2 separate regions of the Homo sapiens genome follow, and region 2 is linked to region 1. Evidence: fine-mapped expression QTL. Tissue or cell type: pancreas. Region 1 holds a variant in brackets; the other region holds the start of a gene. All regions are shown on one strand. Distances are from middle to middle.

The links. PIP is the estimated chance that this variant, and not a neighbour inherited with it, causes the effect.
Region 2: LINC01484 starts here. The variant in region 1 is fine-mapped to the expression of LINC01484 in pancreas (GTEx, PIP above 0.99). The same link has a PIP of 0.9 or more in liver and lung.

The regions. Positions count from the first base shown.
Region 1 is chr5:173,686,076-173,694,075 of GRCh38, reverse strand. It overlaps LINC01942 (long intergenic non-protein coding RNA 1942), which reads right to left and starts at 4,617. Exons shown (of 3, transcript NR_146727.1): 1 at 4,523-4,617. RefSeq lists enhancers at 3,752-3,801, 3,902-3,981. The variant A/G (reference allele first, on the strand shown) is at 4,554.
Region 2 is chr5:173,742,468-173,750,467 of GRCh38, reverse strand. It overlaps LINC01484 (long intergenic non-protein coding RNA 1484), which reads left to right and starts at 4,259. Exons shown (of 3, transcript NR_108027.1): 1 at 4,259-4,448. RefSeq lists enhancers at 6,137-6,306, 6,437-6,486.

The DNA of each region.
Region 1 (8,000 bases):
CTCCTCTCTAAAATGGGGATGGCCAAGACTGCCTGCCTACTCCACCCAGTCCTCATGCGGTTTCAGGGTGAAAAGGGTGGAGGGCACTGGATTTGTTTGCTGTGGCTGCTGTGACAAACTACCACAAACTGGGTAGCTTCAAACAACCATTTCTTATCGAAGCATTCCAGAGACCAGAAGTCCAAAGTCAAAGTGTGGGCGGGGCTGCACTCCCTTTGCAGGCTCCGGGGGAAAATCCTTCCTTCCTCCTCCAGCTTCTGGTGCTTGTTAGCATCCCTTGGCTTGTGGCTGCATCTCTCCAATCCCTGTCTCCAGTCATTATCTCTGCTTCTCCTGTCAGGCTTCTCCTCTCTGCGTGTATTGTAAGGACACTTGTCATTGGATTTAGGGACCACACAGATAATCCAAGATGACTGCATCTCAAGATCCTTAACTTAATTACGTCTGCAAAGACCCCTTTTCCAAATGAGGTCACATCCATGAGTTCCTGAGATCTGGATGTGGGCATATCTTTTTTTCCAGTGGCAGGGAGCAGCGTCAACACTCAGCCCGCTGCAAGCAGCTCATAAGTCATTTTAGTGAACATGAACTGCATCCTGTTGCTAGGGGCAGTAGATTTGAGAGTGCATGCCAGCCTGATGGGTTGGTGATGGTGTCCTGGAGAGTAAGAGCACATGATAAAGGAGCAGCTGGTATCTGCCAGGCAGTGCACTGAGTACTTTGACAATTTATCTCATTTTATCTTCACAGCAAGATACATTTATCTTCCCCTTCCTCAGATGGGGAAACTACCTGAGGCTCAGAAGCACGAAGTGACTTGGCCGAGGTCACTCTCACAGTAAGAAGTGGAGCTGGCATTTGAACCCAGGCAGGCTGTGATTTCACAGGCCATGCTCATAAACACTGCTATCCACTGCCTCCCACAGATACAAGCGGGCCTGAGGTTGGCAGGGAAAGAGGCCACAACTAAGGACCACATGTGGCAGGAGGCCTCGTAGGTCATATCCGTGCGTAGTTACAACAATAATGGTAACTAATGTTAATAATCACAATAATAATCACAGCTAATGATGATGACACTAACATTACATGTGGTGTTGTGATCATGGGATCTTCCTACAGCCAGACACCGTGCTGTGTGCTTTTAGTGTATTATCTCATTTAATCTCACTAGCACTGCGAGGAGGAACCTACTGTTATCCCCATTTACAGGCTGGCCCAAAAATCCATGGACTGTAATATGACAACTCACAAAAACAAAGAACTCACAGGGAGAAGAGAACAGGGTGGAGAAGCCACAAAGCTGGGGCAAATTACTAAAAAGAAATGTGTTTCAGAATGTCCTGGTTTTCAGCTTGGCCCTTGCCCCCTCACTGAGTAAGACTGCAGTACCTTGCTGTCTGCATCTCATTTCCAGAGAGGGCTCAAGGAAGCCCCAAGTCCAGTCTGCCCAGAACCGAGCATGTCATCTCCCCCGCCAAGACGCTCCAACCGCCGCAATCCTTGTCCATCAGGCATCCAGGCCAGAAACTCTGGCTGCCCCCACCTCCCCAATGGTCCCCATCAAGTAGGTAACATCCTGCTGATTTTAACTCCTGTGCAGCCCTCAAATGCACAACTGCCTCCCATTCCTGCACAGTGCCCCAGTTCAGGCCTTCACCACCTTGTTCCTGGGCCACTGCCCAAGTCTCCCCCGACTGCTGTCTGGACTTCTAATACTTTTCCAACTCCCCACTCATTAAATCCATCCCCCTCTCATTAGCTGGTGTGAATTGAGGAAAACTGAGTTCCAGCCATGTCATCCTCATACTCATGACCCTTCCAGGCCTGCAGGACCTAGTTCAAACTCCTTAACTGCATGTACAGTACATGCCATTATCACCTGCCACTTCCTCCCTTTTCATCCTTATCTTCCACCCCTCCTTCAATCATGACTCAGCTCCCCAGCACTGACCTGGTTGTAGCTCCCCATCTACAATGTGCTGTTTGCACCTCAGGGCCTTTGCACAGGCAGGTCTCCCTGAGGAAATGCCATTCCCACCTTCCTGGTCTCTCTGTCCCATTTTCCAGCTTGCATACTCTTTGAGGGCAGGGACTGTGTCTGTCTTGTTCACAGTTTTATCCATAGTCTCAGGATAAAGCCTGGGTCATACATAGGAGGGGATTTTTTTTGTTTTTCTTTTCCTTTTTTTTTTTTTTTTTTTTTGGTTTTTTGTTTTTTTGAGACACAGGCTTAGGCTGTCACCCAGGCTGGAGTAAAGTGGGGTGATCTCGGCTCACTGCAACCTCCGCCTCCCGGGTTCAAGCGATTCTCCTGCCTCAGCTTCCCGAGTAGTTGGGACTACAGGCGTGCACCACCAAGCCCAGCTCATTTTTGTATTTTTAGTAGAGACAAGTTTCACCATGTTGGCCAGGCTGGCCTGGAACTCCTGACCTCAAGTGATCCACCTGCCTCGGCCTCCCAAAGTGCCGGGATTACAGGCAGGGGCCACAGCGCCTGGCCTTTGGGTTTTTTTTTTTAATGTTTTAATTAATTGCCAATATTTCAATGTTGGGTGATTTCATAAAAATTCAAATTCAGGCTTCTCTTGAAGATATTGGGATCTGGCAACCCTGAGCCTGGTCCCTGAATGACAAGAATGGGCTGGGTTGGAGTAGCTGCTGCCGCTTCCACCAGGTCACTGGCTGTCCAGTCCTCACTGGCCCACCCAGCCCACTTCGTTCATCTTTGTCACCTGCCTGGCCCTTCTGGTGTTTGAATTTTCAGGTGTCGGGCACATCGAATTTAGCTATGAAATCCTTCACTTATGCACATACTTATTTGGTCTCCGATATGTGGCATGCCACATATCGGAGGCCAAATAAGCTGACACTTACATCAGATTAAACCTGCTTTTCTTAGCAAAGAGAGAAACAAGATCAGTCACAAAGAGTCATTTATGCCCACGAGATTTTAAAAAGCACAAGCTGTCCAAAGTCAGCGCAGGCATCCTCATAATGAGGACAGAGGGACGGGTCCTCCAAAGCAGCGCTTCTCCAACTTTAATGTGTGCAGGAGTCACCTGCGGCGTCTGCTAAACTGCAGGTTCACATGCAGTGGGTCTGGGACAGGGTGTGAGACCATGTTTCTAACCATCTCCCAGGTGAGGACAATACTGCTGGTCCCTGGACACACTTTCAGTAGCAAGGCTCTGTGACATCCCTGCAACAAACTAGAGGGTCCTAACCCCCGGATACCTCGGCCATCTCCTGGAGGCAGTGCCACCACCCCTCCTGCCTGGACAGAATGTGTTGTAGGTCATTCAGGTATTCTTGGAATCCACCTCTGGTGTCACCACTGGTGCTGAAGGTAGGAAGCCCTGTGCTTGGAATTCCCAGCTGCTTCACTGTGGTCCAGGACAGGGAAGCATGGGAAGCAAGGGACACACAGCAAGTGGAGTGGGGTGACGGTGGGGGTGAGGGTGGGGGTGATGAGTAGGGTGGGATGAGGTTGGGTGGGGCGAGAGTGGTGTGAGGATGGGTGGGGTGGCAGGGCCCAGCAATTTATGCCTCTACAGGTGCCCTTCCCATTCCCCACTCCCTACCACCCTTGAGTCCCAAAGTGGGTTGTCTCACGGGGTCTGAGATGCTCCCAGAGGGACCAGAAGACCTGGGATCGAATCAACCTTAGTCACAAACCCCAAATTGCAAGTGTGTCGTTTTGAGCAGCCTTCACAGGCAAGCTCATGTTCCCGGCCTGCATATTATTTTTCCAGGCGGCGGGAGGGAAACCCTTTGCCCTCCCACATCACGGATCTCAGAGGAAGCAGAAAGAAATTGACACAGGCAGAATGGGTCTCAGGGGCTTCTCACCCTGAGCCTGTAAACAGGAAGTGCAGCTATACTCTCAGGAACACCCTGGTGTTTGCCGGTTTGTTTTGCAGCCTTTGGGCCCATTCAGATAAACAGAGGAGAGGATTGCCAGAAACTCACTGAGCCCTTCATGGCACTCCCTATCTCGGCAAGGTTTGGTGATACCAAGGCTGCTGGCCAAAGATTTGCATGGGGGGAGGGACGGGGCCCGTGCTATTGGCTGCAGGGAGGGTCCCACCTTCCCCAAAGTCCCCTTCTGCCATGCCCTGAAAGAAATATTTCTCGGGGCCATCAAGGGTGGAGAAGCCAACCTGTCCCTGGTGGCTGCAGCTGGCATAAAGCCGGCTGCAGCAGCGGGCAGGAGGAAACAGGAGATGGGGTGCCAGGCCCATATCAGGCTGCCTGCTCTTGGCTTTCATTATTGTCCTATGTTTTCAAAGTACCAGCTCCGGAGGGGGCAGGAGAGGGTAGAGTTTTGAGACTTGTTCGGCCTAGGTATACATAAACAGCAGCAGACAAAATGTCCTTTATCAGCTATTTCCCAGGAAACAGGGAGAAAATTCTTCTCAGCTCCAGATGATTAAAGAAGAGACTCACCCTTCTGGGAGACAGCCCTCTCTTTTTCCCTCTCCCCTTTGCGGAACACTAAGGCACTGTTCCGGATACCCACCAGGAGGGTCCCTGTTGGAGAGGAGGCAGCC[A/G]CAGGGCTGGAGGAGGAGGTCAGCTGCTAAGGGGACCAGTTCACTGCCAGCCGGGGCACAGAAATTCTTTCCCAGGAAAGGGGATGTTACGTAGCCTGCTGGGTAAACTGGAAATTATTAACCAGGGGATGAGTAGAATCAAAAGGTTTTGAAAACTGGTTATTGGCTCTACTGGGAGTTGCAAGCATGCTAGGGAAAAAAATATCACAAACCTATTTGGAATTTTTTTTCCCCCTGAACCAGGAAGAGGCGTTTGTAATAATTCTGTCAAGTGAAGCTCTCCAGTGTTCTTTCCTGCTGGTATGTCAACGGTGGTTTTGTTATTTCTTCACACAGATGGCCAAGGAAACAATGTATTTTTCTTTTCTTTCTTCCTGGTTTTTCCCCCCGCAAAAGAATTTGAGTCTTTCTAAGCTGGCCATTTCTTATTTTTTTCCTATTTCTGATTTAGATAAAATGGTGACTTCAAAGGGCCTTTGAGACCACTTACATCACAGTAGAGTTTGAGGTTCCCTCTCATCATAAAAATAAAATAGGTGCCACCTCCCACCATGGTCAGTGAGTGTCTGGATCTGCGTGGGTGCCTCACAGCAGGGCTTCTCCAAGGCATGATGTGTGTGCAGACCACTTAGGGATCATTAGAAGAGCCTGACTCAGCAGTTCAGGGCCCTCGGTGTCGGCATTTCTGACCACTCCCATGGGGTGCCCATGCTGCTGGTTTCTGGACCACTCATTGAGAAGGAGGGCTTCTTCCCCCAATCTCATCTAATCAACCCTCATCTCTAGTTGGCAGGATTGAATTTATTTAAAGAAGCTGAGGGATTTCCCCTTTGAAAGAGAGGCAGACAGGCCTTAAGCAATCTTTTTTTTAATTTTTATTTTTTATGAGATGGAGTTTTGCTCTTACTGCCCAGGCTGGAGTGCAATGGTGCAATCTCGGCTCACTGCAACCTCTGCATCCCGGGTTCAAGAGATTGTCCTGCCTCAGCCTCCAGAGTAGCTGGGATTGCAGGCATGTGCCACCACGCCTGGCTAATTTTTGTATTTTTAGTGGAGACAGGGTTTCACCATGTTGGCCAGGCTGGTCTCAAATTCCTGACCTCAAGTGATCCACCCACCTCGGCCTCCCAAAGTGCTGGGATTACAGGTGTGAGCCACCGTGCCTGGCCGGCCTAAGCAACATTGAATCTGCCTTTGGAACAGGCGGTGCTGACATGGCACAGTGAGCAGATGTAAGTAAGATACCTGTGGGTACAACACGCCCGGGCTCGAGACATCCTCCCTGAGCTGCGAAAGAGGGGCATATAGACTTTGGGTTTTGGAGGCAGAAAGGTAAAAGTTCAAATCCCAGCTCTCCTACTTACTAGCTGGATGGCCCTGGGTAAGTCATGTCACCTCTGTGAGCCTTAGTAAATGGGGCTGTAAAATGGGGGTAAACTCTACCCCCGAGGGTTATGGTAAAGAGCAAATGAGAAAACACACATAGAGCACCTTGCATCTGCCCAGCGCCTCATATCTGCACAATAAATGGTAACTTTTCATTTACCCAGCAAAGTCAATGAATACCTACTAATTTCCTGGTCTGTTCTCCACACTAGACATATAAAGGGAAAAAACAGATATGGTGGTCAGAATAATGCGCCCCAAAGATGTCCATGTCTTAATCCCTGGAATTAGTGAATATGTAATCTTACATGGCAAAAGGGATTGTGAGATGCGATTAAGGCTAAGGACCTTGGAATAGGGAGATTATTCTGGATTATGCAAGTGGGTCCAATGTAATCATGTGGGGATGAAGGCAAAGAAACTTTCCCGGCTATGGTCAGAGAGAGATGCAATGGCTTGGAGGACGGAGCAAAAAGCCACGAGCCAAGAAATGTAGGCAGCCTCTAGAAGCTGAAAAAAGAAAAAAAAAAAAAGATTCTTCCCTAGAAGCTTCCAGAAAGGAATGCAACTTACACCTGTGTTGCACTTCCAACCTACACAACTATAAGATAATATATCTGTATTGTTTTGGCTGGGGGCGCGGTGGCGCATGCCTGTAATCCCAGCACTTTGGGAGGCTGAGGCAGGTGGATCACCTTAGGTCGGGAGTTTGAGACCAGACTGACCAACATAGAGAAACCCCGTCTCTACTAAAAATACAATTAGCCAGGCATGATGGGGCATGCCTGTAATCCCAGCTACTCAAGAGGCTGAGGTAGGAGAATCGCTTGAACCCAGGAGGTAGAGAGCTTGCAGTGAGCTGAGATTTCGCCATTGCACTCCAGCCTGAGCAACAGGAGTGAAACTCCACTTCAAAAAAAAAAATTATGTGTGTATATATATATATATATGTATGTATTGTTTCAAGCCACAAAATTTGCATTACTTTGTTACAGCAGCAACAGAAAACATCCAACTGACACGATTTCTGCTCTCACAAAACTCACACATCTGATGTGGATAGATGAACTAATTGGGTAAATGAATAAGTGAGCAAGGAAAGATGGAGTTACACACCATGAACACATGCAGTGATGTGACGGGAAATGAGTTTTGGGGACTGGGTGCCCAAAAGTCCTCTCTGAGGAGCTGGTGTTTCTGCCAAACCTCAGTAACAAGCAAGACCAAGGCAGGAAAAAAACAGACCCATGCAGAGGGCTCGGCAAGTACAGGGTCAGTAGTAGGAACAAGCTGGGTGTATTTTCCCATGGAACAGTGGCCAGTGACGGGGGAGTGGCATGTGAAGTTGGAAAGGCCTGTAATGGGCCAGACCAGGAAGGAGCTGGATTCTAAGTGTGATTTCTATTCTTCTGGTGTATCACCGAGCACATGCTGTATGTCAGAGAGAGTCACCGAGACCTAGCAGAGCAGCAGAGACGTGGCATATTGGCTTGCCTGAGTGCTTTGCCATAACAAAGCGCCCTAGACTGGGTGGCTTAAACAACAGAAATGTATTGGGGTTTTTATCCCAATACATTTTATTCCAAATGTAATATCAAGGTATCCGCAGTGTTGGTTTCTCCTGAGGCTTCGCTTTGGCTTGTAGATAGATGGCTGTCTTCTTCCGGTGTCTTTATGTGCTCTTCCTTCTGTGCGTGTCTGTGTCCCATCTCCTCTTCTTATAAAGACATCACTCACGACTGGGTGTCGTGGCTCACGCCTATAATCACAACATGTTGAGAGGCCAAGGTGGGATAATTGCTTGAGCCCAGCAGTTCAAGACCAGCATGGGCAACATAGAGAGACCTCATCCCTATAAAAAATAAAAAATAAAAAGTAGCCGGGTGTGGTGGCATGCACCTGTAGTCCCAGCTACTCCAGAGGCTGAGGTGGGAGGATTACTTGAGCCTGGGAAGTGGAGGCTGCAGTCAGCCATGATTACCGCCACTGCACTCCAGCCTGGGTGACAGAGTGCGACCCTGTCTCAAAAAAAAAAAAAAAAGACATCAGTTATATTGCTCA
Region 2 (8,000 bases), 56 kb before region 1:
TCTTACCCTCTTTCTTTCTGCCTGGGTGCCGTGGCTCGTGCCTGTAATCCCAGCACTTTGGGACACCAAGGTGGGTGGATTACTTGAGGCCAGGAGTTCAAGACAAGCCTGGCCAACATGGTGAAACCCCATTTCTACTAAAAATTACAAAAAAAAAAAAAAAATAGCTGGGTGTGGTGGTGCCCACCTGTAATCCCAGCTACTCAGGAGGCTGAGCATGAGAATCACTTGAACCTGGAAGGCAGAGGTTGCAGTGAGCTGAGATGGTGCCACTGCACTCCAGACTGAGTGACAGAGCGAGACTTTGTCTAAAAAAAAAAAAAATGCTCTCTGTAAATGTGGTCACATTTTGAGGTACTAGGGGTAGGACATCAACATATGAATTTGAGGCCAGGGGGACCCAGTTCAGCCATGACACCTCCCTTTACTGTGAGGGGTCAACGTGCCTTTCTGGGTCCACCCACTGTGGCCTATGGAATCTTTCACAGCCTCTCAGCAGCACAGTCCTCGGAGCCACAGCCTGGCCTCCTTGGGTCTCCGGCCAGAGAAGGCTCTGCTCAAGTGTCATCTCCTCAAAGAGGCCTTCACTGACCATCCTGTCTAAACAAGAGCTCCCCTCCCCTAGCCACACAAATTCTCTTCACAGCCTCTATCATCGCCTGGACTTGGGTGTGTTATTTGCTGGCTTACATATTATCCCTCTCCCTACTAAAATGTTAGCTCCCTGAAGACAGAAATTTTATTTTGTCCTAGCTGTACTCCCAGCATTGAAAAAGTCACCGGAGCCATGGGTTGGAGGGAAGGGGCGGGAAGCGGGGAGGGCTGAATAGGTGGATCACAGGGAATAGTGGCATCATGCATATCACGATGCCTTTGTGCAAAGCCATAGAATGTACAACACAAAAAGGGAACCGTAATGTAAACTAGAGGCTTTAGTTAATAAAAATGTATCAGTATTGGCTCATCAGTTGTAACAAATATAGCACACCCATGCAAGATGTTAATAACAGGTGGTAACGGGATTGGGGGGCTTTGGAAGTAGATGAGAACTCTGTATTTTCCACTCATTTTTCTATAAACCTCAAACTGCTAAAAAAAAAAATGAAGTCTACTAATTTCTTCTTTTTTTTTTTTTTGAGATGGAGTCTTGCTCTGTCACCCAGGCTGGAGTGCAGTGGCACAATCTCTGCTCACTGCAAGCTCCACCTCCCGGGTTCATGCCATTCTCCTGCCTCAGCCTCCCGAGTAGCTGGGACTACAGGCGCCCGCCATCATGCCCAGCTAATTTTTGTATTTTTAGTAGAGACAGGGTTTCACCGTGTTAGCCAGGATGGTCTCGATCTCCTGACCTGGTGATCCGCCCGCCTCAGCCTCCCAAAGTGCTGGGATTACAGGCGTGAGCCACCGTGCCCGGCCGAAGTCTACTAATTTCTTAAACAGCACGTAGTACATAGTAGGTACACAGTAAATATTTGCTGATGACTGAAGGATTCAAATCATCAGCCTCAATTTATGGAGGTTTATGCCATGCCCCACATGGTACTGCAAAAAACCCAAGTGAGGTACAAGGCATAGACCCTCCAAAGAGTGACAGAACTCACAGGAAAAAAACACAAGGTCAATGGCAATTAGGTCAATGATAATTAAAACACAAGGTCAGTGGTAAACACAATGTGAGTGGTGATTAATTCATTCTGAGGCTCCTGTAAATTGCCTGCAGGGAGGCTGTGCTACTGGCCACCTGCAGACAGTACCCCAGCCCCCACCTGAGGCTGTGGGAATGCCTTGTAGTCAACAAAGCGAGAGTGACCCCCAACCACTGAGGATTGCCTGGGTAGGGTATTCCATGGCGTGAGCCACATGACTTCTCAGAGGTCCCCAGCAGGCTGGAGCCCAGCTAGCCTTGGCAATTACCTGTCCATCACACACCATCCCATGGTTTTACTCTGTTCCCTGTGTCACTTCCCTAGTCTCTCACCAAGATGCCTGGGGTCACCTTCCAAATAAAAACCTTGCCCCAAATCATTGTCTCAGTGTCTGCTTCCTGAGGGACCTAAACTAAAACACTACCCACTGTAAAAGGCGGTACAGAGAAGGCTCTCCATAAGGGGTAATCACTGTTATCATGTTACTAATAGCAACAGTAATAACGAGCATCATAATGATGAAATAACTGAGACCCCAAGAGGGAGGGTCTCTTGCCCTAGTTCACTTCAGAAGGTAGATGGCATAGGGGTTTCTAATCTAGTCTGTCTGACTTCAACATCTGTGAGATCCCACACACCCACACACCTATGCACTCTGAGTTGAAATGCCTGCTGCAGATTCCCAGGGCTCCCAAGGAGCTGCTCTTGGGGGTTAGATGATAAGGATGGCTGGAGTAATCCCAGAGAGCTTCCTGGAGGAGTTGGCATGGAGTCTCAAGAGAAGAACACAGATTCTGGAGTCAGGCTCAGATTTGTGATTGGGTTCTATGTCCCTGAGCAAGTCACTTTAACTACTTGGAGCCTCAGTAATCCCATTGGAAATGGGAATAATGGGGCCCAGCTCACACAATTGTTATGAAGAGTAAATGTATTGGTGAAGAGAACAGGTTTTAGACTGAGAGAGCTCTGAGTTGGGATCCCGGTACTGTCACTGACAAGCTTAGAAAAGTCTTTTTTTTTTTTTTTTTTTTTTGAGATGGACTCTCACTCTCTCGCCCAGGCTGGAGCACAGCGGCACGATCTCGGCTCACTACAAGCTCTGCCTCCTGGGTTCACACCATTCTCCTGCCTCAGCCTCCCAAGAAGCTGGGACTACAGGCGCCCGCCACCACGCTGGGCTAATTTTTTGTATTTTTAGTAGAGACAAGGTTTCACCATGTTGACCAGGATGGTCTCAATCTCCTGACCTGGTGATCCGCCTGCCTCGGCCTCCCAAAGTGCTGGGATTACAGGCATTAGCCACCGCACCCCGCCTAGAAAATACTCTTAATCACTCTAAGCCAAAGTTCTTTCATTTGTAAAATGGAAATAATATTAGTTCCTACCAGTAGAATTATAGTGAGAATTAAATAAGATAGCACATGTAAATCCCTTAACATGGTGTATGAAATACAGTCAATGCTCACTAAATGTTTGGTACTTTTCATCAAGATGTTAGCGGCAATGGAGTAAATTGTACAAACTATTTTGGATATAATGTGGCACATCAAATTAAAACTGAACACACCTATGGCCCAGTGATTCCACTTTTAGGGGTTTATCCTATGGATATATCAAGATACATGTGTGAGAATGCTGACTGGAATACTGTTTGTAACAGCAAAACACTGGAAACAACTCAACTGCCTCAGTAGTGAGGGAACTGGTTACATCAATGGCAGCAATACCCACAAAGAAATGCCACGTAGTTGTCAAAGGAGAAATGCAGATTCATGAGTGGGATGTACAGAAAGATGTCCAAGGTATACTGATAAGTAAAAAGGCAAGTGATAAAAGAGGTGTATATATTAACCTGTCTCTTTAAAACTTTTTTTTTGAGACAAGCTCTCACTCTGTCACCCAGGCTGGAGTGCAGTAGCTCAGTCACAGTTCACTGCAACCTCCTCCTCCCAGGCTCAAGTCATCCTCCCAAGCAGCTGGGACTACAGGTGTCTACCACCACACTTTACTAGTTTTTTGTATTTTTAGTAGAGATAGGGTTTCACCATGTTGCTGAGGCGGGTCTCAAACTCCTGGGCTCAAAGAGATCCTGTAATCCCACAGTGCTGGGATTACAGGGGTGAGCCACTGAGCCTGGCCTTGTCTTTTTGTTGTCGTTGTTTGGTTTTGTTTTTTAAAGGCATACACATGTGCTTAGAAGTATTCTAAAAATATTCTCAAGGAAGTGTGAACCCAAAGTATCTGAGACAGTCTTAATCAGTTTAGAAAGTTTACTTTGCCAAGGTTAAGGACGCACCCATGACATAGCCTCAGGAGGTCCTGAGGCCAAAAATTGTTTGGCCCCAAGGTAGTTGAGATACAGCTTGCTTTTATATGTTTTAGGAAGACATGAAACATCAATCAATATGTGTAAGATGTACATTGGTTTGGTCCAGAAAGGTGGAGGGGGTGGTTTCCAGGTCATAGGTAGACAAGAGACAAATAGTCGCATTCTTTTGAGTCTTTAATCAGCCTTTCACTGAATACACAATTTACATGCGGTGGTGGGGGGCGGGGGCGTAGAAGAATAGTCACTTATGCCTTAGTCTGGCTCAGTGAATCAGCATTTTTACATAAACAATAGGGCAGAGGAAGCAATCGGATAGGCATTTGCTTCAGGTGAGCAGAGGGATGACTTTCTGTCCCACATCTGTGAAGATCAGCTGTTGGTTTACATTGCCAGGGTGAAATTCAACAGAACTAATTTAGGGTGAAGATCTTGAGGCCCACAAGGAATTTCCTTGTGGGAAAATTGTGAGGAAGGTAAGTAGCTTTTAAAAATCTTTGTAGCTATCTTCTTCAGGAAGGAAATGGGTGGTGGGTTTGCCCAACATGGTTTCCAGCTTGACTTTTCCCTTTGGCCTAGTGATTTTGGGGTCCCAAGATTTATTTCCCTTTCACAAAATGATTAACAGTGATTATTCTAGAGCAGTGGTTTTGCAGGGGCGATTTTTGCCTCCTACGGGACATTTGGCAATGTCTGGAGTCATTTTCTTGGTTGTCACGGGGCGGGGAGGGGGGTGCCACTGGCATTGAGTGGCTAGAGGCCAGGAATGCTTCTAAACATTCTACAGTGCACAGGTCAGCCCACGACAAAAAAAAGAAAAAAGTTTGGCCCAAGATGTCAATAGTGCTGAGGCTGAGGAATCGCTGAGAGGTTTAAGAGGTTGAGCGCTCTCAAATGTGGGGAAGAAGACTTATTTTTCATATAATGCTTCTCTGATGCTTGCATTACATTAATAGCAACAGCTACAAAATCTGCCCACTCTTAGCTATGAGCTAATGCGTGTAAGATGCCAGCATATAGTAGGTGCTCACAAGGTGTTCCTTTCTTGCTGCGCTCTGGCTTTCACATCTGCAGAAATGGGTGTGCCAACACCTGCTCTGGGGGTGGCTGCAAGGCTCATTTTAGGCTACAGTTCAGGCCCTGACCACCTGGCTCTGGGTGCAGCTGTTAAAAGCGTCACCAACCTGCCCGGGGGCAGCTTCCCATATCCCTTCCTCTGCCACTGGTTATTCTGCTGAAGTTCAAGGGCCCCCAGCTGCTTCTCAAAGCAGGAACACTTCTGCAAAACACATCCTGAATTTGAATAGCCATGTTGCTGTGTCTCTGACAGACAGGGCTGCCAGATAAAATTCAGGACATCCAGTTAAATGTCTCATGCAATATTTGGTATATACTTATACTAAAGAATTATTCATTATCTGGAATTCAAATTAAATTGAATCCATATGTATATAGCTGTTGTTGTTGCTGTTTTAATCTGGCAGCTCTACTGTCCAAGCAAGGTAGAGATGAACTGTGTGCTCTTTTCCAAGGAGCTAATCTCATCAGATAGAGATTTTGCTTTTGTTCCATCAAAAGTCTTGCTCACTTACCAAGGGAGCTTGGATCCTGCTGGGAGACTAAGATGGTCACTGCCTCTGACAATTTCGTAAAAATCTCAGGCTCCTGGGGCTTATTCAGGCAAGTTGGGAGGGACGTTTCTGAAACACGTTTGGCCCGGTCATTACGGAGGAGGAGGGATTGAGAGCAGAAAGCAGAAGCGAATGGAATTCAGGCCTCAGGATGCCTCCCCGGCATAGGCCCCATCAGAAGCCCTATTGTATGTTTGTAAGTTCAGAGGCTCCTTCTTAAAGAGGCGCTACACACTGTATGAGCCCCAGGGTCCACCAAGTCTGGGGTCTGGTCCTGGCTGAGAGGGCAGTGCACTGAAGCTGTTTATCCAGTACCTGCTACGTGCCCAGCCATGAGCACACTCCTGGGCCAGCATCCTGGGCTAGGGCTCACTGTGGGTATTCTACAAAGGGGGAAACCAAGGCTCGGAGTGGTGGAGTAACTCCCCCAATGCCACCCAGCTGGGAAGTGGCAGAAAAAAAAAAAAAAAGGATTTGAACCTGGGTTGAGTTTCCTCTTTGCTGGGAACAGCACCTCAGGGCCCTGGTTCCTTGGGGCCGGTTGAAAGGAGAGAGTTGCCTCCCTGAGGGTCTCTGCTGGGTGTAAGCACTGCAGGAAGGGGCTGTCTCCTTAGGGGAAGTTAGGGCCCTAGCCAGGGCCAGAGCAGGAGTAGGTTCTGGGAGGACAACTGAAAGTTTCAGAATTATGCTCAACATCTAAAAATATCAAGCACCGATTTCATGGCAGGCAAAGTTGCTAAGAGACTTCACAAGCATCATCTCATTTAACCTCCCGGCAACCTTGTGACAGTTTGATCATGTGCTGCGTTTTGCAGATGAGAGAACTGAGGCCCAAAGAAATGCTGCATGTACCCAAAAGCACCCGGTGGGTAAGGAGAACAAGGATTTGAAGCCAGGCCTTCTGAGAGAGGGGAGGCAGGAGAGAGGCAGCACTGGACTCCCACGCGGGGCAGTTCGGGGACTGTTGGATTAGTCTCCTGTTACTGCTGTAAAAGATTACTATAAGCTTAGTGGCTGAAAACAACACAAATTTATTACCTTCCAGTTCTGAAGGTCAGAAGTCCAAAATAGGTCTCACTGGGCTAAAACCAGTGTGTCAGCAGGATTGCATTCCTCCTGGAGGCTTTAGGGGAGAAGCCATAGCTTTGTTTTTCCCAGTTTCTAGAAGCCACCTATATACCCTGGTTCACGACCCTTCCCTCCACTCCAAAGCCAGCAGCATAACATCTTCCAGACTCTCTCTGACTCACTTTCGGCCTCCCGTCTCCATTTTTTAAGGACCCTAGCGATTACCCTGGGCTCAGCCAAATAATGCAGAATAATCTCTCCATCATGAGATCCTTGACTTCATATCTTAAAGTCTCTTTTGCTATGTAAGGCAACATAGTCACAGATTGTGTGGATTGGGACATGGATGGCTTTGGAGGGGCCATTGTTCTGGCTATCACAGTGCTGCCTTGGCCTTCGTTGGGCTTTGCCTCTGTTCTGGGAGTGAGGGGTGAAGTCATAGAGCTGGAGGAGGGGGTAGGAATGGGGCTGGGCTGGTGGTTGAAGAGCGGCAGTGAAACAATGATCCTTGATGTGGGACCACGGGCATGGGGGTCACAGGATGGCCTCCCTGAGACGTCTCCAGCCAAGAATCTGAGGAGAACACTCTGGGCACTGCCATATTCCAAGGGGCATGGAACCATGCCAGGGGCCACATGGCTGGGCTCAGCACCTCTCAGAACTGTCGCCCAGGTCTGCATCATTGGGTGGGACTAGGGAGGGACTCAGACAGAAGGACATGTGGAGTGGCCCAGCGGTTCACAGCCAGTTATGCTAGAATAGTATAACCCTTTCACCCAGAAGTTCTATTCCTATGAGTTTATCCTGCAAATAGATCTACCCCTGCATGAAGTGATATATGCAAACTTAATTACAAGATTATTTATAAATTAGAAATAACCTAACTGTCCATCAGTAGGGGACTATCCTGGTGGTACAATCATAGAGTGGAGTTCTACGTTGTCATCAAGAAGGCTCTTTACATATCACCATGAAAAAAATCTCAGAGAAAAATACGGATCAGGATACTATGTTGAGCATGCTACAATTAGTGCAAAACTGGACAAAAGGAAGAATGTATTATATATAAAATTTATATTTGCATAAAACATCACTGCAAGATGACGCATGAAACTGAAAGCATTGGCTGCCTTGAGGGAGGAGGAGGAGTGTGTGCCTGAGAGACAGGGTGGAAGGGAGGTTTGTCATGATTGACTCGTTTCACTTTTCAAATGTGGAACAATATGAGTATGTTCCCTACTAATAAATGAATGGTTAAAGTGTTTTAAAGAATCCTTTGAAATCATATGTTCAAAGAAATACTCAATTGTCTAAGTTGGAAGAAACTGT